4 separate regions of the Homo sapiens genome follow, and all the other regions are linked to region 2. The links come from fine-mapping of genetic effects on gene expression. A gene starts in region 2. Each other region holds a variant in brackets. All regions are shown on one strand. Distances are between the middles of the regions.

Region 1 (4,170 bases), 33 kb before region 2:
GGCATGCAGGGCTGTGGCCAGCAGCGTGAACCCCTCGAGACTGTGGCACCCCTCCTCCTCCTCAGTCCGACAGCTGGCTCCCAAGGGATCTCCCGCAGCCTCGGGGTGATGCAGGAGATCTTCGCCACCAATGTGTTTCCCATCTGTGCTCCTCAAAGAAGGTCAGTACAAACTAGGCCGAGGACACTTGGTCAGGTAGGAGACTTTGAAACTCGGGCATCAAGAACTGAACCAGACCTGCATCTGGAAATCACACGAATGAAGTTGGTTCTTTGTGGCTCTCCCGCTCACCCAGGCTGTCTGGATGCACCCGGGTGCATGTTGCCACATTCCCCTGCAAACAGGTGCCAGCAGCTCTTGTGACTTAGCTGTGGGTGACAGGTGCTGAGCACGCGTCTGCAGCAGGGCCCCCACACAGCCCACAGGCACCGTGGGCTGTACACTCTGTGGTGCTTTCTTATTAGGAGTCAACCTGTTCAATTTTTTTTTCTTCTTTTATAAAATGTACTCAAGTCACATATAATTTCTACACCACTCACAGGTTGTACAACTGCCATGCAAATGCATTTCAGATTTACTTTTTTTTTACACAGTGAACCTTCTTGATTTTTATTTTGTTTTATTTTATTTTACTTTATTTTATTTTAAATATAGGGTCTTGCTCTGTGGCCCAGGCTGGAGTGCAGTGGTGTGATCATAGCTCATCGCAGCCTCAAAACTCCTGGGCTCAAGCAGTCCTCCCACCTTGGCCTTCCAAGTAGCTGGGACCACAGGCATGTGGCCACCACCCGCACCTGGCTAATTTTTAAATTTTGTATAGAGATGGAGTCTCACTGTGTTGCCCAGGCTGGTGTTGAACTCTTGGCCTCAAGTGATCCTCCCACCTCAGCCTTCCTGAAGTGCTGGGATTACAGGCATGAGTCGCTGCACCCAGTCTGGGTTCTTAACAAGCCTATGCAAAATTTAAAATCTCTGTTGCATCTGTCAGTCTCGAATCTCAAAAAATTACCTTTTGACCTGTCAGGCAAATTGGTTTAAAACATTCAAAATGTCCTGGCTGGGCACGGTGGCTCACGCCTGTAATCCCAGCACTTGGGGAGGCTGAGGCGGATGGATCACGAGGTCAGGAGATCGACACCATCCTGGCTAACACGGTGAAACCCCGTCTCTGCTGAAATATAAAAAATTAGCCGGGCATGGTGGCGGGCGCCTGTAGTCCCGGCTACTTGGGAGGCTGAGGCAGGAGAATGGCATGAACCCGGGAGGCAGAGCTTGCAGTGAGCCGAGATCGCGCCACTGCACTCCAGCCCAGGCGAGAGAGCGAGAGTCTGTCTCAAAAAAAAAAAAAAAATTCGAAATGCCCTTTTTCTTAACTCCATTTGAACCAGCTCACATCGATGGGCACAAGCGTCGCCAGGAAATTCAGTGTGGTAAGCTTGGCACCTACTCATGGCCACCGTGTCCTGAACTCCCTTTCCTGTGCTCAGGCCCCAGCCCACGCAGCAGGAGGACACACTGCCGAAGGGACCAGTTGGACGGCCTTCTGGCTTTAGCGCCTGTGCCTTTCAGGACCTTAAATACAGAAAGGAACCGAGTGCTCTGTGCAGCCCCTCCAAGACGGTCGCTACAGCGCCAGCACCACCTGCGCCGGGCCATCATGCCGTGACCGGACTTGGTTTACGAATACAGTGTACGAGGTTAAGATATGATAAAGTGTAAAAATATATGTTATAGCCACGGTGGTTAGTTTAACATGTTTTGTATATATGATTTTTATAAATCTATTAAAATGTGCCTTAAATTACACCTGTTTTCCTGGCGTGTTATGTCCCTGCCTCCCCCGCCACTGCTGAGAAGTGGGGGGCCCCTGAGTGTGGCACCCACCCGCCGCTATCTTTTTTTTTTTTTTTGAGACGTAGTCTCGCTCTGTTGCCCAGGTTGGAGTGCAGTGTCGCGATCTCGGCTCACTGCAACCTCCACCTCCCAGGTTCACACCATTCTCCTGCCTCAGCCTCCCAAATAGCTGGGACTACAGGCATCTGACACCACACCTGGCTAATTTTTTGTATTTTTAGTAGAGACAGGGCTTCACCGTGTTAGCGAGGATGGTCTCGATCTCCTGACCTCGTGATCCACCCACCTCAGCCTCCCAAAGTGCTGGGATTACAGTGACCCACTGCGCCCAGCCCACCTACTGCTTTCAAACAGAAGAATGTGTGTGGCAGTGGATTCTGCAGCATGCGTCGCATCCACGGGCTTCCAGAGTGCGTTCCACCGTGGGGCAAGCACCTTTCCCGAAGCAGAGGCCTCCTCACATCTTCCACACATCTGCGGTGCGCGGCAGGAGAGTGAGGTGAGCGCTCAGCACAGGGCCCGGCTCAGGCCTTAGTCCCTGTGCTTCCACTCCTGAGCTCCACCCTCCCCTGGCCTTTCCATCCCTCCCAGGCACAGGCGTCCTGGGTTGCTCTTCCTCCCGGCATTGGCAGGAACCTCCCGCGCCACCCAGTGT[G/T]TCTTCAATAGAGTCGGTCGTTTTGCAGCTGCTGGTCGCCACCACCAGACCTGTGGGCGTAAGGCAGGCAGCCAGCGATGACAGCCCGCAGGGTCACACAGGAAACATGCTGTGACATTCGTATAAACAGAAATAACGGGCTGGGCGTGGTGACTCACACCTGTAATCCAGGCACTTCGTGAGCCCGAGGCAGTAGGATTGCCTGAGCCCAGGAGTTCAAAACCAGCCTGGGCAACGTGGCTGAAACCCTGTCTCTACCAAAAACAAGTTTTTAGTTAGCTCAGTGTAGAGATACACACCTGTAGTCCAGCTACTTAGGAGGCTGAGGCAGGAGAGTCGCTTGAGCCCAGGCATTTGAGATAAGCCTGGGCAACATAGCAAGACCCCTGTATCTAAAATAATTTTTTTTTTTTAAAGGCTGGGCGCAGTGGCTCACACCTATAATCCCAGCATTTTGGGAGACTTCGGTGTTTCACTTGAGGTCAGGAGTTCAAGACCAGCCTGGCCAGCACGGTAAAACCCCGTCTCTACTAAAAAATACAAAAATTAGCCAGGCTTGGTGGCAGGCGCCTGTAGTCCCAGCTACTTGGGAGGCTGAGACAGGAGAATCGTTTGAACCCAGAAGGCGGAGGTTGCAGTGAGCCAAGATCGCACCACTGGACTCCAGCCTGGGCAACACAGACTCTGTCTCAATAAATAAAAATTCAAAAAAATAATGATCCCCTCCAGCCCCCAAAACACACACTAGTCTTTCTCTTTTTGTCACAGCGCATAAAAAGTGTTCACCCTGACGTGGGGAGACATGGAAACGGGGAGTGAACATTTGTGAAGTGACTCTTCATTTGACAGGTGTTTTAAAAGCCTCCAGCAGTGACTAAGTGTTTGTGGATGGGCGTCCGCGTGGGTAGATGAACCGGTCCATGTCAGCAGAGGAGCCGAGTCTCAGAGGGGAGCCGCGCTTTGCACGGAAAGCTCTGCAGCAGTGCGTGGCAGCCCTGTCGGTAGGTTCCCGTCGGCTCCTTGCCTTCTCAAATGCAAGGAATTGCTTATCGAATTCAACAGACACATTCTCTTTTCATTTAGCCTTCCAGAATTTCATCCTCTTCGTTTAAGCCCTTTTTAAAATTTGGAGTTGAGGCTGGGCACGGTGGCTGACGCCTGTAATCCTGGCACTTTGGGAGGCCAAGGCGGGTGGATCACGAGGTCAGGAGTTTGAGACCAGCCTGGCCAAGGTGATGAAACCCCATTTCTACTAAAAATACAAAAATTAGCCGGGCATGGTGTGGCAGGCACCTGTAATCCCATCTACGTGGGAGGCTGAGGCAGGAGAATCGCTTGAAACTGGAAGGCAGAGGTTGCAGTGAGCCAAGATCACACCATTGCACTCCAGGCTGGGCAACAAGAGCGAAACTCCATCTCAAAAAAAAAAAAAATTGGGGTTGATAGCATTTATTAATTTTGAGAATGAAAATGTAAGATGTAAGCATTATAGAAAAGCTGAGTAACAATTTATTTTGTATATCAAAGTCGTCCATCAGTCATTGCAGTATAAAATGTTCCAGGTGTATTTCCACTTGGACTGGATTTTTAAAAATAACTGTGCCATACAATCGAGCGGTGATCAAAGCTCATGTAATTAGGGCTAAGTCGTTCCCGTTGGG
Region 2 (4,116 bases):
CACCTCCTAGTGCAGACTGGAGAATGGTGTGACAGGCTCCAAGCTAGGAATGAGAACGCTTAGCTCCCTCCATCCCTTAACACGGGTACAGCTCTCGGGCATCCAGGGCATGACGTCTGCCCACATACTATTTCCTCTCAAGAAGCCTTGTGGCCACATTCGTCTTCGTGGGTCATTCAGGAAAACCCCGGTCCCCACTGTCAGCTGCCAGCTGAGTCCTTCCATCCTGCCAGGTCATTTCTGCACAAGACCACTCCTCACATAGAGCCAGAGCTGCATGTGAGCCCTGGGGGTACCCACGGGGAGGGAGCCGCCTTAGTGGGGGTCAGCTTCGCAGCACCCTCTGGCACTCACCAACCCATCCATGCTCCAAAAAGGAGACCCCCAGATGGAGGTTTCTCGCTGTCCTTTGGACCCTGTCACAGTGTGTCCCCCTCCTCTGCTAACTGCAGTCATGACAGCAGCCAACAGGTCTCATGCCTGCGTCCTCCAAGCCACACACGGAGCCGCAGGTGCCACTGCGGTGTTTCAGGTGGGGAAACTGAGGCTCAGACGTTAAGTGACTTGGCCCTGGCGACACAGCTGGGGGCCAGCGGGGCCTGGTTTCAAAGCCACGCTTCACACTGGAACCCCAGCTGCTCCTGGAGCAGGGATGTTCTGACGGGGACAGGGGGTAGGACGTCTCCTCTCCCAGAGCACCCGAGTTCCAGCCCTGCTGCTATTAATACCATGGGTAAACTCAGACGCTTCTCCTTCCTCCTCCCCTTGCCTTTTTTTGTCCAAAGACTGGAAAAGAGCACGTCCGCATCCCCCCCCCAGGGAGGTTCTGCCGCTCTAAGCAACAAGGGCCGCCAGACTGGCCCAGTAACCAGGTATCCAAGGTCAGGCTGCCCTAAACCGCACAGCTCCGGGCACTCATGCTCCCCCATCTGACCACGCAGATGCCTGGCCTTTGGGCAAGAAACCATGCTCTGATTCTCGCTATTCTGAATGCGCTTTGCAAAACCTCCCAGCAGCTGCATCGAGCTATTCATTAGCTGACAGCGGAGACCTTCAGGCAGAACCAGACGGACGGATGGTTTTGGGGGTTTCTCACCTCTCAGTTTCCATTCGCTAGGAGGGAAAACCGGGGGCTTAGACCGCAGGGGTAGTGGCCTCCGGGCCAGACTCTTGGCTTCCTGTTCTCTCTCCTCACCTGCGAACCCCAAACTCCTCTGCCAAGTGTTTCCCTCCCGTGATGGGGGCAGAAAGGACCCAGGTCCCTGCCCTCCCCTGTCCTTTGTAAAGTTTGCCATTTCTCTGTCACCCCTCCCTTGCTTTTCTGGTTTTGAGACCTGTCTTACATCCCTGCAGGGATCATATCCACAGCCTTCTCCCTCAGTCTCCTGGGGGAGGAAGCCTTCTCCCTCCCCGGCTCATACACAGGCTGCGGGGAGCCCTGGGCACGACGAGATTCTCGGCGCCCTGGAGGTTCCCCGGGGACGTCCCGCACCCACCTGGCTCGCCCCAGCCCGGAAACGCCTTCTTTCGGGCGCTTGGCCCTGGATTCCCGACCCGTCCCCAGTTTGCTCCCATCGGGAAGCGCGCAGGTCGCCCTGGCCTGGGAGAGGATGGCGGGGAGGGGGCGCGTGGCCCTTCCCTGGCCCGGCCTTCCCTCTGCAGGACCTGCCGGGGCTGTGCGGACCCCGGCGCGGCGCTGCACCAAACCCTCGCCAAGTGCGCCCTTCGCGTCTCCGCGGTCCCCGCGCGCCCGTAGCCGCCGCCGCCCGGGCGCCCTCGGGACTTGGTGCGCGGGCCGGGCTGGACCCGGAGCTGCCCCTACCCACCCGCCCCGGCACGGAGGTCCCTCTCGGTCCCTGCGCCCCCGAGTCTTCCCCGCGCGCCCCCCTACCTCGCAGTCCCGCGCCCGCCGGAGCCGGCAGAGGCCGCGCCGGGCACCGAGCCCCGGGCAGCAGCGTGGGCAGCTCGGCCTGGGCCGGGAGGATCGGGAGGTCCCGGTGACGTCGGCGCGCGGGGCAGGGACCGAGGCGGGCGGGACTGGGGCCGGTGTGGGGCCGCGGGCAGGACAGGAGGGCCACACCCCTCCCGGCGCTCAGCGTCCTGCCCCACTCCCTCCAGCTGCCCGCGGTGGAGCTCACGTGGGACCCTCCAGCCTCCCAGAAACACCCGGGCAGGGGGGCCCCAGAGCCTAAAGCCAAACAGGTGAGGGAGGTCAGTCAGCCCGGGCCAGTTCGTGCCTCCCCAGGTGAGAGGAGTAAACCCGGCTACTCTGCAAGGCGCCAGGTGAAGAGGTGAACCAGGCCACCAGTTAAGGCCCCAGGTGAGAGGGGTGAACCAGCGCCACGAGGTGAGGAAGGGGAACCAGGCCACCAGGAGAGGCCCCAGGTGAGAGGGGTGAACCAGGCTATCAGGCAAGGCGCCAGGTGAGGGGGTGAACGAGGCCACCAGGTGAGGAGGTGAACCAGGCTTATCAGCGAAGCCCCAGGTGAGAGGGGTGAACCAGGCCCCTAGGTTAGCCCTACAGTCAGTGGCCCTGAGGACGGGCGCCCTGCCCTACCCTGGCCAGCTGTGAGTGCAGCCCTGGCCCTGTGCCAGCCACCAGGAGATGGAAAGGACTCTAAGTGCGGAAGGATGCCGTGAAGGCCGGCATGACGGCTCCAGACAGAGCCCAGAGGCCTTTTCCATAAACTGCCCTTTTCCTCTCTGCAAACCCTCCCAGCACCAGCTTCCCTCGGGCAGCCTCCCACCAGCTCTGCTTCACCGTGCAGAAATGCCCCCCACGCCCTCAGCAGCGCCCCACAGATGGCTGAGGGATTCGTCACCATCGTCCCACACCAGTGCAAAGAATTTTTTTTTTTTTTTAGATGGAGTCTCGCTCTGTCGCCCAGGCTGGAGTGTAATGGTGCAATCTGGGCTCACTGCAACCTCCACCTCCGGGGTTCAAGTCATTCTTCTGCCTCAGCCGCCTGAGTAGTGGGGATTATAGGTACCCATCATTGTGTCCAGCTAATTTTTGTATTTTTAATAGAGATGGGGTTTCACCTTCTTGGCCAGGCTGGTATCAAACTCTTGACCTCATGATACACCCGCCTCAGCCTCTCAAAGTGCTGGGAGTACAGGCGTGAGCCACCACACCCAGCCTCAAAGAATTTTTTTAAGCCTTAAGAAATAACACGGCTGGGCGTGGTGGCTCATGCCTGTAATCCCAGCACTTTGGGAGGCTGAGGCAGACAGATCACAAGGTCAGGAGTTCAAGACCGGCCTGGCCAGTATGGTCAAACCCCGTCTCTATTAAAAATAAAAAAATTAGCTGGGCGTGGTGGCTGGTGCCTATAGTCCCAGCTACTCGGGAGGCTGAAGCAGGAGAATCACTTGAACCCGGGAGGCGGAGGTTGCAGTGAGCCGAGATTATGCCACTGCACTCCAGCCTGGGTGACAAAGCAAGACTTTGTTTCAAAAAAAAAAGAGAGAGAGAGAAAAACAACACAACACTAGGTGTCCGGTGTGCAAAATTTGGAAAATTATGAAAAATAAAAACAAAAAGAAGACCCCATAAGCCAACTGTGTAGAGGTAACCTCTCTCACCTTCTTGTCAGACATCCTTCTGATCGCCTTCTCCTCCACATTGAAATGTATTTTTAAAAAGTTTTTTTTGAGACAGGATCTTGCTCTATTGCCCAAGCTAGAATGCACTGGTATAAACGCGAGTCACTGTAGCCTCGACCTCCTAGACTCCAGCAATCCTCCTCCCTCAGCCTCCTGAGTAGCTGAGACTACAGGTACGTGCCATCACACCTGGCTAATTTTGAAACTTTTATGTAGAGATGGGATCTCGCTATGTTGCTCAAGCTGGTCTCAAACTCCTGGGCTCAAACAACCCTCCCAGCTCGGCCTCCCAAAATGTTGAGATCACAGGTATGAGCCACCGTGCCCAGCCTAAATACATATTTTAAGGGATTCACGTCACATACTGCGTTCTGCAGGCGGCCCGTGACTTCACACTCATCAATAGCCAAAAGTCCGTCTCCACACCCTGATGGTCTGCGCTGGACTCCGTGTCATGGATCTGTCACCTGCTTTGGGATATTTTGGTTTCTCCTGGTGTCTCACTAGCAT
Region 3 (4,170 bases), 22 kb before region 2:
CTCACCATTCAGGAACTTCGCAAGCTCCTTGTCATCCAAAGTTAGAACACTTAACATTTTTCGATTTTTTTAAGACAGAGGCTCACTCTGTTGGCCAGGCTGGAGTGCAGTGCTGCGATCTCAGCTCACTGCAACCTCCCCCTCCCAGGTTCAAGCAATTCTCCTGCGTTGGCCTCCTGAGTAGCAGGGATTTTACAGGTTCCTGCCAGCATGCCTGGCTAATTTTTACATTTTTTAGTGGAGACGGGGTTTCACCATGTTAGCCAGGCTGGTCTCAAACTCCTGACCTCAGATGACCCACCCACCTCCGCCTCCCAAAGTGCTGGGATTACAGGTGTGAGCCACGGCACCCACCCAGAAAGCGTATAATTAAATAAAATTTAAAATTTTAAAGCAAAGGTGTGGGCATGGTGGCTCACGCTTGTAATCCCAGCACAGGGAGGCAGAGGCAGGAGGATCACTTGAAACCAGGAGTTCAAGACCAGCCTGGGCAACATAGTGAGACCACCAGGGGGAAAAAAATGTAAAGCAAAGGCAGTACTTGAAACTCACTTCCTAAATGTTTTCTCCATTTCACTCTCACCTCTGCTCTCAAGGTTAGTCTCCTCTCCTGCATCTGTACAGGGGACACACAGTTTAACAAGGTCCCACTGCACATCTGTTCCCAACTCAGCACTCACTGACATCACATTGGGAGCTCACATCAGCCATCGTGAGACTGTTTACACCACAGGAAGTGGCAGAGACCACAACAAGTCAGGCTTTCTTCAAGAGGCATTTCACTGATTGCTGTCAGTGGACAGCAGTGACCTTTTCTGGCCAGGCCCTTGGTCAGCTCTCCAGCACCTCCCCAAGCCCTGGGACAGCAGGTGACCTCACATCCACACCACTGCCCTCCCTACAACAGCCAGGAGGGCCAGGCCACCCTGGAGTGCCTTTGCCCTGGCCCTCTTCCCTCCACAGCCTCAGGAGATGGTGCTCACGGAACGGAGAGAGCTCTGGGCAGGAGGAGGAGCTACACCCTCCAGCTCAGATCCAGGTGGATCCAGGCTATGCCAGGTCAGCACGTGTAGGGAGGGGCATACACTTTCTAAAAGTTCATGTCAGATGGTTGCACAAGACCCCAGGTGAAGGCATCAAATGAGAGCTCTCAACCCTTTCTGCAGACCAAGCTGCCCCTGTGCCTGTTACACAGCCTCAGGAAGGTACTAAGAGCTGCCCCTTGACGGGGCACAGCTGGCAGCAGCAACCTTTACAAGGCATCACCAGGTGCTGACCAGCCATCACGCCACCTGTACCCTCGGGAGATGCTCCTACCCTCAGCCATGGCTGCGCCTGGGTTCCCCCCAAGTCACAGGCTCTTCTCCTTACACTTGGAAAAGCTGTTTCCTCTGTGCCCCCTTCACCTTCCCTTGACTGCCAGAGTCTTCAGAGAGGATCCCTGCAGAGAGATTCCAGCACTGTGAGCTAGAAATGCCACGGCCTCTAGTTCAGTGTCACCCAGGACCCTGCAAGATACAGCTCCTCACTCTACCCCAGAAGGAAGGAGGGCCCAGCTAGGCCCTGCAGGGGATTCTGACAGGCTCGGTCCGGGAACCA[C/T]ACCCCCACTTGCCTCAACGGGCGGGAGGAGGATGCAGGGGCTTTCCAGCGCGGTTTCATTGACTGCTCTGGTGCCTGTACGCAGTGAGCACCTTATAACTGGTTGTAGTCCAAAGCTGGGTTTGAAGAAAAATTACCACCACCTGCCTTTGCACTCAGAACTCAGAGTAAAGCTTTTGAGCTTGCAAACAAATGTCCATGAATACGGACGAGCCCTTTGCTCGGCAACCCCACCCAGGCGACAGAGGGAGTTAGGAATGGAGGCCACCTCCAACAAGCCTTGTTGTGTCAGCTCCCACCTCCTCGCAAGGGGCCTGTGCCTCCTCTGAGCAGCAGTGACCCAAGTGTGGGTGACGGGAAAGCAAAGAGAAAGTTACCCTGGGAAGACCGTGCCACCCGCCGGCTGGGCTCCAATGCCAGCTCTTCCTGACAGAGGGAGAAAAGCCCTCGTCCCCACTCGACCCCGCTGCAACCTCCCAGTCACAGCCACCACACGCGGGCCCTGGCAGGACTCGATCTACTGCCAGTGAGATCCGGATGGAGCTCAACCCCAGCGCAGGTCCCAGGGCTCTGCACTGCCTGGAACCCGGCAGTTGACAAAGCCTGTGTGCGGTCCCCATGCCCTGCGTAGCCTCCAGGCGGCGCTCGCGGGCCTCCGGAGCGCAGGTCCCAGCAGCCGGGCAGCGCAACTCAGCCACTCACCTGGTACCTCTCGATGAGCCTGAAACCCAGGACATGCTGCAGCTTCCTCAGGCAGATGGGACAGAGGTCCAGGGGCCGCCGCAGGGCCTCGTCCAGGCTGAGCGCACCCTGCATGAGGCAGCGGAGCCAGCGGCAGTTCCCCAGGCCCAGAAGGTGGCAGAGCTCGTGGCACGTGACCTGGGGGGAAGGCCACCAAGCACCTTGCCTCACTGCCTTGCCCCTGCATCCGGCAGATCCCCAGGCAGCCCCAGCAGGACCAAAATGAGGACCTGGGTGAGGCCAGATGGCCGGGAGGTGGTCCAGGCGCCCTCCCCCTGCCCCAGGCGGCACAGGCCACTTTCAGGGCCCCAGGGGAAAGGTGAGTCAGGGTGGGAGGCCACACAGGATAGGGGCTTGGGGCTCTAATCCCTCCCCTGCTGCTTCATAGCTGTGTAGCCTTGCTTTCCTCATTCCATAGAGTTAGGGGTCCATCCACTTCACTGTGAGGATGGGGCAGTGTAACAGACCGAGGCACCAAGGGCTCAGACAGCACCCTCCTGTCCCCTCTTACCAGCCCCAGAGCCCCCACCCACCTTGCAGCACTGAACCATCCCCAGGGCACTGAAGCACAGGGCCCAGCCCCTGTCCTGCAGGGGGGCCTCGGGGCCGTCTGCTGCTGCCTCTACCAGGGCCAGATCAGGGGCGCTGGGCCCCGACTTCGGGAATTCCCCTGAGAACCGGGCGAAGCTGCAGACGCCCACTTCTGGAGAGAGATGGAGAGAAGGGCACTCTCAGGGGTCAGCCTTGGCTCTGGGGGGCCCACCGTCAAACCCACCTCATGCTCTCATGCAAGCTGGCCATGGCCCAAAGACATACCAGTCCTGGGAGGCCCTGTCCTGCCCACATGAAGTTGGGCCCTGGGGCAGACGCCACAGCTGAGGAACAGCCCCTATGCCATTCCTCAGGAGGAGCTGGAAGGGGCCATCTATTCCCATGCACAGGTGTTGACTTCCACCAGGAGGGTGCTTGAAGCAAAAGCAAAGAGGGTGCCCTGCAGCCACGGAGGCCACAGCCCCATGCCAGGCTACCCCCCACGCACAGCTGCTGGGGCCCCGGCTCACCGTGCCCTGGAAGGAACTTGCTGAAGGTGAAGCTCCAGGCCTCATGGGGGTACAGGTCAGACAGTGTGAGGCCCAGCACACACAGCGCGTCCCCTGGCTTGTTGTTCTTCAAGAAGGACAGGATGCCGTCTGCGGGGAGAGGGCCAGAGGATGGGGTCAGGAGGCAGCCGGGGACCCCCATCTTCCAGGCTCAGGCTGGCACCCCGTCATCCTCTTCCTCTGCCTGGGCCCTGCCCCTTCCCAAGTCAGGTGTGGGCCACCAGCGTTTGGTGTGACCTGAGGGCACACAGTACTGCATGATGTGGAGTGACAGCCAGGGCCATTTGGAGATCAGGACATGGTAAGTCAAAGGCCATGGACAGCCCAGTGGGGACGCTGGAGAGGCAGCCGGGCCAACAAGACTGGCGCTTGCAGCCCCAGGAAGGAGAAGCCACCTCAGCAGCTGAGCGACAGCCCCAGAGAGTCCACGTCTCAGCCCTGGGACCTGTGAGTCCCCACAGCCAAAGGGGCTGCAGATGATTAAAGATCTTGGGATGGAGGCGTTTTTCTGCAGCAGCCAGCTGAGCCTGATGCCATCACAAGAACCCTCGGTAAGGCCGGGCACAGTGGCTCACACCTGTGATGCCAGCAACTCGGGAGGCCAAGATGGGCAGATCACCTGAGGTCAGGAGTTCGAGACCAGCCTGGCCAACATGACAAAACCCCATCTCTACTAAAAATACAAAATGAGCCGGGCCTGGTGGTGCGTGCCTGTAATCCCAACTACTCA
Region 4 (4,170 bases), 41 kb before region 2:
TACTGAAAATCCGAGTGATGATGTTGTGAATACGGAACACCTAATCACACAGCTTGCTTTGCTTTTACAGAAACGTTCCTCTTTTTCTGACGCAGTTTAATTGAGGACCGTGTTGTGTGTGTATGTGTGTACACACGCTCTGTCTTTAATGACAGAAACACAAAAACCAGCTGGCCTTGCAGACGGCTTTTCTAACTCACAAGTCTTCCCTGAGACAGACTAACCTGAAAGCTTTGCCTAACAGTAGCTTGTAGAGATCCAGTGCACGCCGATGCTGCTAAACTCAGTGCCTGAGCCCGGCCCTGCAGCCCCAGCCGCAGTGTCTGAAGGCCACCTCCCAAAGGGAGCACGTTGCCTTTTCAAACTCCCGTGCCGATTTCCTAAGAGCCCCTAGTCCAAGCCTCTCAGATGAAGCTGAGGAGCCGTGCCTAGGATCCCTTCCCAGCTCTGAGGACGGGCTGCAGAGCTCTGCAGGTGTGGATTCACCTTACGCCCCTACAGCAGGCTCAGCCCTTCCCACCCTGCCCCATGCCCAGCAGCACAACACGGAGTGAGACAGGATGCCCACGGTGACTGCCGCTCCGTCCGTGCACACACAGCGGTGCTCTTCTCCCCTTAGCCACCCACTGCCCAACCCAACGGCAAAGACACAGAAACCAGGTCCCCTTGCAGACGGCTCTCCCATCTTCCTGCAAGTCATCTGCTCACACACAGTTGGCAGCACATAGCGTTTCCTTCTTTCAGAAACATTCCTCTTCTGGGGCTTCAGAAAGCTGGCAAGGCCACTAGCAGAGCTTTTGTTAATGCCCCAGCTGCTTGGCGAGCTAACAGCTGACCTTTCGGGAAGCCCACAGACGCTGGAGGAATCTTGAGTTTCTCCAAACTGCCGCTCCACCAGTGCCTTTGGACAGCCGTGCCTGTTCGCCGCTCTCCCTAAGTCTGATTCTCATCGAGGCCCCTCGCTTCTATGACTGTGCTTGCAGAAGAGTAAACACTCTCGGATGCCGCTGTCCTGGGGGAGCCCGCGGGAGCCTGTGAATGTTGATACGAGCTGGCCAGTCCTGGGCCCAGCTCACTTGTCCAGCTACCTGCCAGGTGGCTTTCACTGTGTTTAAAATACATTGCATTCCAAGCTGGTCCCCTCTGTGTATCACTCTACTGAGAAATCCTGCCTAGTGTGTTTTGGGATGTGTCCTAGCATTTACAAGAAAATGAAAAGCGTCCTCTTAATTGGCACCCGAATGTTGCTGTGGCTCAGTCACATATCCCAGGGCCCTCGTCCCGAGGCCGTGCTGCCCCGAGCCCCGAGCCCCTCTGCAGCTCACCCTTGGCTTGTTTTCCGCAAACCCGGTAAACGCAAGCCCTTGGGGCAGATGCAGAAGCAGAAGAGGGAGGGGAAACCTGCCTCTGGGTCACCCTGTTAGCACAGCGTTCTCATCGGGAGACAGCATGGAACTCTCTCTCGCAGTGCTCGAGGCTGTGTGTCAGTGTTTGCTGGGCTTGTGGCTCCTTTTTTGGCTGGATAAAGAAGTCGCTGTTTTTGTACTGCTTCTGTGGCTCTTCACAGACCTCACGGATGTGACCGGAGATGAGTGCCGATGACCACGTTTTAAAGGAGAAAGAGAGCTCCTGGTGGGGCCCTCGGGGTGGTCTCAGGTC[C/A]CATTTGCAGTCTGCAACAGTGACGCGCAGCCCGGTCCGGAGCGTGGTGAGCTTTGTTTGCCTTCTGGGTCAGCTTTCGCTGTGTCTCCTGTGTGTGTTAGAATCCAGAGCCCAGAGGAAGTGCAAGCGGGTCCTCCGCCAACGGGGAGAGCCTCTTCGCGGCGCTGTTGGCGACAGCAGCGCTGTGATTCGCGTAGCAGGGGAGTTGTTTGAAACACCTTCCTGAGTAGTCCGGCCTTGTCAATGAGTGCTTGTTTTCCTTTAAACAGTCTGACATATTTACTCGTCACTTTCAAACCAGAAGCATGAGAGGAAGGAGATATTGTGGGGTCCGTTTAACTCGATAGAAAGCGCAGGGGGATGGCCCCCGGCGCGGGCTCTTGACCCGCTCAGCGCTGACCCCACCGCCCTGGCCGAGGCACTTGGCCTTGCTGAGCTGGACTTCCTCCTCCTCCTCCTCATGACCGGGGTGAATTAGAACGTTTTTAAAGACACCCCCTTCCAAATTCTGTAACACATTGTAATTGGAGAAGAAGGAAACTCTGCAAGGCTAAACTGTCATTCACAACTTGGCTACACATAGACTCTAGTCAGTTTTGTCTCCAGAACCTTAGGCTTTTGTATTTTTTAATTTTAATTTCACTGTTAATCCTTATTGTCTTTTTTATTAAGATGTTGGAAAAGCAGGAGGTAGTTGTGCCTCAATTATTGCAAAAATGTAACAATAAAGTTCCTCAAAATAAGATCTGTTCCTCATAGCTATACTGTGTACACATAAGACGCATATAGGGTTTTACTGAAATCTATTTTTAACTCTTATGTTCGTAGAGAAATTGTTTCAAGGATTTTGAGTCATAGGTCTGTAATTTATAGAGATCTCTAGAATTCTTATTGTAATTTTCCTACTTCTTTGATAAAAGAAAAATAAGTCAGATTGTTAACTCCAAGATTGAAAAAAAAAACTCTTGAAAGAAGATTATTAGTTGTAACTAATTTAGGGGTTCTGGGCACAGACATCTAACCTGGTATTGTAAGGCAGAGGCTCCCATTGGAATGGTAGTGGTCCGGGTCAGTTGTTCATGGTGTAAGCTTTGCACAGTGTATTAACATTGGGAGGGTCTGGCTTGAAAATTTGGCCACCCTCAGCCTCTGAATGTTTATTAAAATAAATTTAGTCTTTCTTTGCTTAATATAAAATAGTGCCAGTATTCAAAACCAACACTAAATTGATTTTTCATTCCCCAGGATTCACAGCAGATCACTCTCATCCTAATTTTTTTTTTTTTTTTTTTTTTGAGACAGAGTCTCCCTCCACCTCGTGGGTTCAAACGATTCTTCAGCCTCAGCCTCTCAAGTAGCTGGGTCTACAGGCGCCCGCCACCACACCCAGCTAATTTTTTGTATTTTTAGTAGAGACAGGGTTTCACCATGTTGGCCAGGGTGGTCTCTATCTCCTGACCTCGTGATCGGCCCACCTCAGCCTCCCACAGCCTCCCACAGTGCTGGGATTACAGGCATGAGCCACCACACCCAGCTCTAATCCTAATGTTATTTGAAGGTGGTTTATTATTTATTCATCACAGTTTTTATTTCCACATACCAAACAAAGCCTGGCATGTAGGAGAACCATTGTAAATAATACAGGTGTGGCTCACACCTATAATCCCAGCACTTTGGGAGGCCAAGGTGGGAGAATTGCTTGAGTGCAGGAGTTTGAGACCAACCCAGGCCACAAGAGACCCCATCTTTACGGATAGAATCAGCTGGGCATGGTGGTGCATGCTTGTAGTGCCAGCTACTTGGGAGGCTGAGGCAGAAGGATCGTTTGAGCCCAGGAGCTTGAGGCTACAGCGAGCTGCGATCGCACTCTGCACTCCACCCTGGGCAAGAGCAAAGACCCCATCTTAAAAATAAATGAAGATGGCCGGGCGCAGTGGCTCATGCCTGTAATCCCAGCACTTTGAGAGTCCGAGGCGAGCGGATCACAAGGTCAAGAGATCGAGACCATCCTGGCCAACATGGTGAAACCCCAACTCTACTAAAAATACAAAAATTAGCTGGGTGTGGTGGTGGGCGCCTGTAATCCTAGCTACTCGGAAAGCAGAGGCAGGAGAATCGCTTGAACCCGGTAGGCAGAGGTTGCAGTGAGCCGAGATCATGCCACTGCACTCCAGCCTGGTGACAGAGTGGGACTCTGTCTCCAAAAAAGTAAATAAATAAAGTTGTGTTCCAGAGGCTTTTATTCAAAACACTTTTTATTTTTAAAGCATGGCATGGCAGCATATACACCTAAACACATGCATGTGAGCATGAGAGGCCTCGCTCTCCAAGATCAGAAGCTGGGAGGGGAAGGACCTTGACGTGCTCTGGAGACCAGCGGTGCCCATGGGGATGGCAGGTGGAGGTTCTGTCCTCACAACCCCTGGGGTTATCGTTCCAGCCAGAAAGCGAAGAGACCACTCACAGGAAGCAAGGGCACCGTCCGGTCCTCGGCGTGGTGTGACCAGAGCT

The links. PIP is the estimated chance that this variant, and not a neighbour inherited with it, causes the effect.
Region 1: its variant is fine-mapped to the expression of AMZ1 in prefrontal cortex (BrainSeq, PIP 0.95).
Region 3: its variant is fine-mapped to the expression of AMZ1 in whole blood (TOPMed, PIP above 0.99).
Region 4: its variant is fine-mapped to the expression of AMZ1 in whole blood (TOPMed, PIP above 0.99).

The regions. Positions count from the first base shown.
Region 1 is chr7:2,719,456-2,723,625 of GRCh38, reverse strand. It overlaps AMZ1 (archaelysin family metallopeptidase 1), which reads right to left. Exons shown (of 7, transcript NM_001384743.1): 7 at 3,943-4,170. Among named protein-coding and RNA genes, the nearest start is that of AMZ1, 33 kb to the right of the region's middle. The variant G/T (reference allele first, on the strand shown) is at 2,510.
Region 2 is chr7:2,686,072-2,690,187 of GRCh38, reverse strand. It overlaps AMZ1 (archaelysin family metallopeptidase 1), which reads right to left and starts at 1,986. Exons shown (of 7, transcript NM_001384743.1): 1 at 1,892-1,986. RefSeq lists an enhancer at 1,018-1,287.
Region 3 is chr7:2,707,948-2,712,117 of GRCh38, reverse strand. AMZ1 (archaelysin family metallopeptidase 1) reads right to left here. Exons shown (of 7, transcript NM_001384743.1): 4 at 3,402-3,530; 5 at 2,874-3,043; 6 at 2,302-2,478. Among named protein-coding and RNA genes, the nearest start is that of AMZ1, 22 kb to the right of the region's middle. RefSeq lists enhancers at 635-794, 1,435-1,484, 1,495-1,714, 1,860-2,555, 2,475-2,574 and a silencer at 2,155-2,314. The variant C/T (reference allele first, on the strand shown) is at 1,600.
Region 4 is chr7:2,726,791-2,730,960 of GRCh38, reverse strand. GNA12 (G protein subunit alpha 12) reads left to right here. Exons shown (of 4, transcript NM_007353.3): 4 at 1-2,856. It also overlaps a transcript of AMZ1 not described here. Among named protein-coding and RNA genes, the nearest start is that of AMZ1, 41 kb to the right of the region's middle. The variant C/A (reference allele first, on the strand shown) is at 1,660.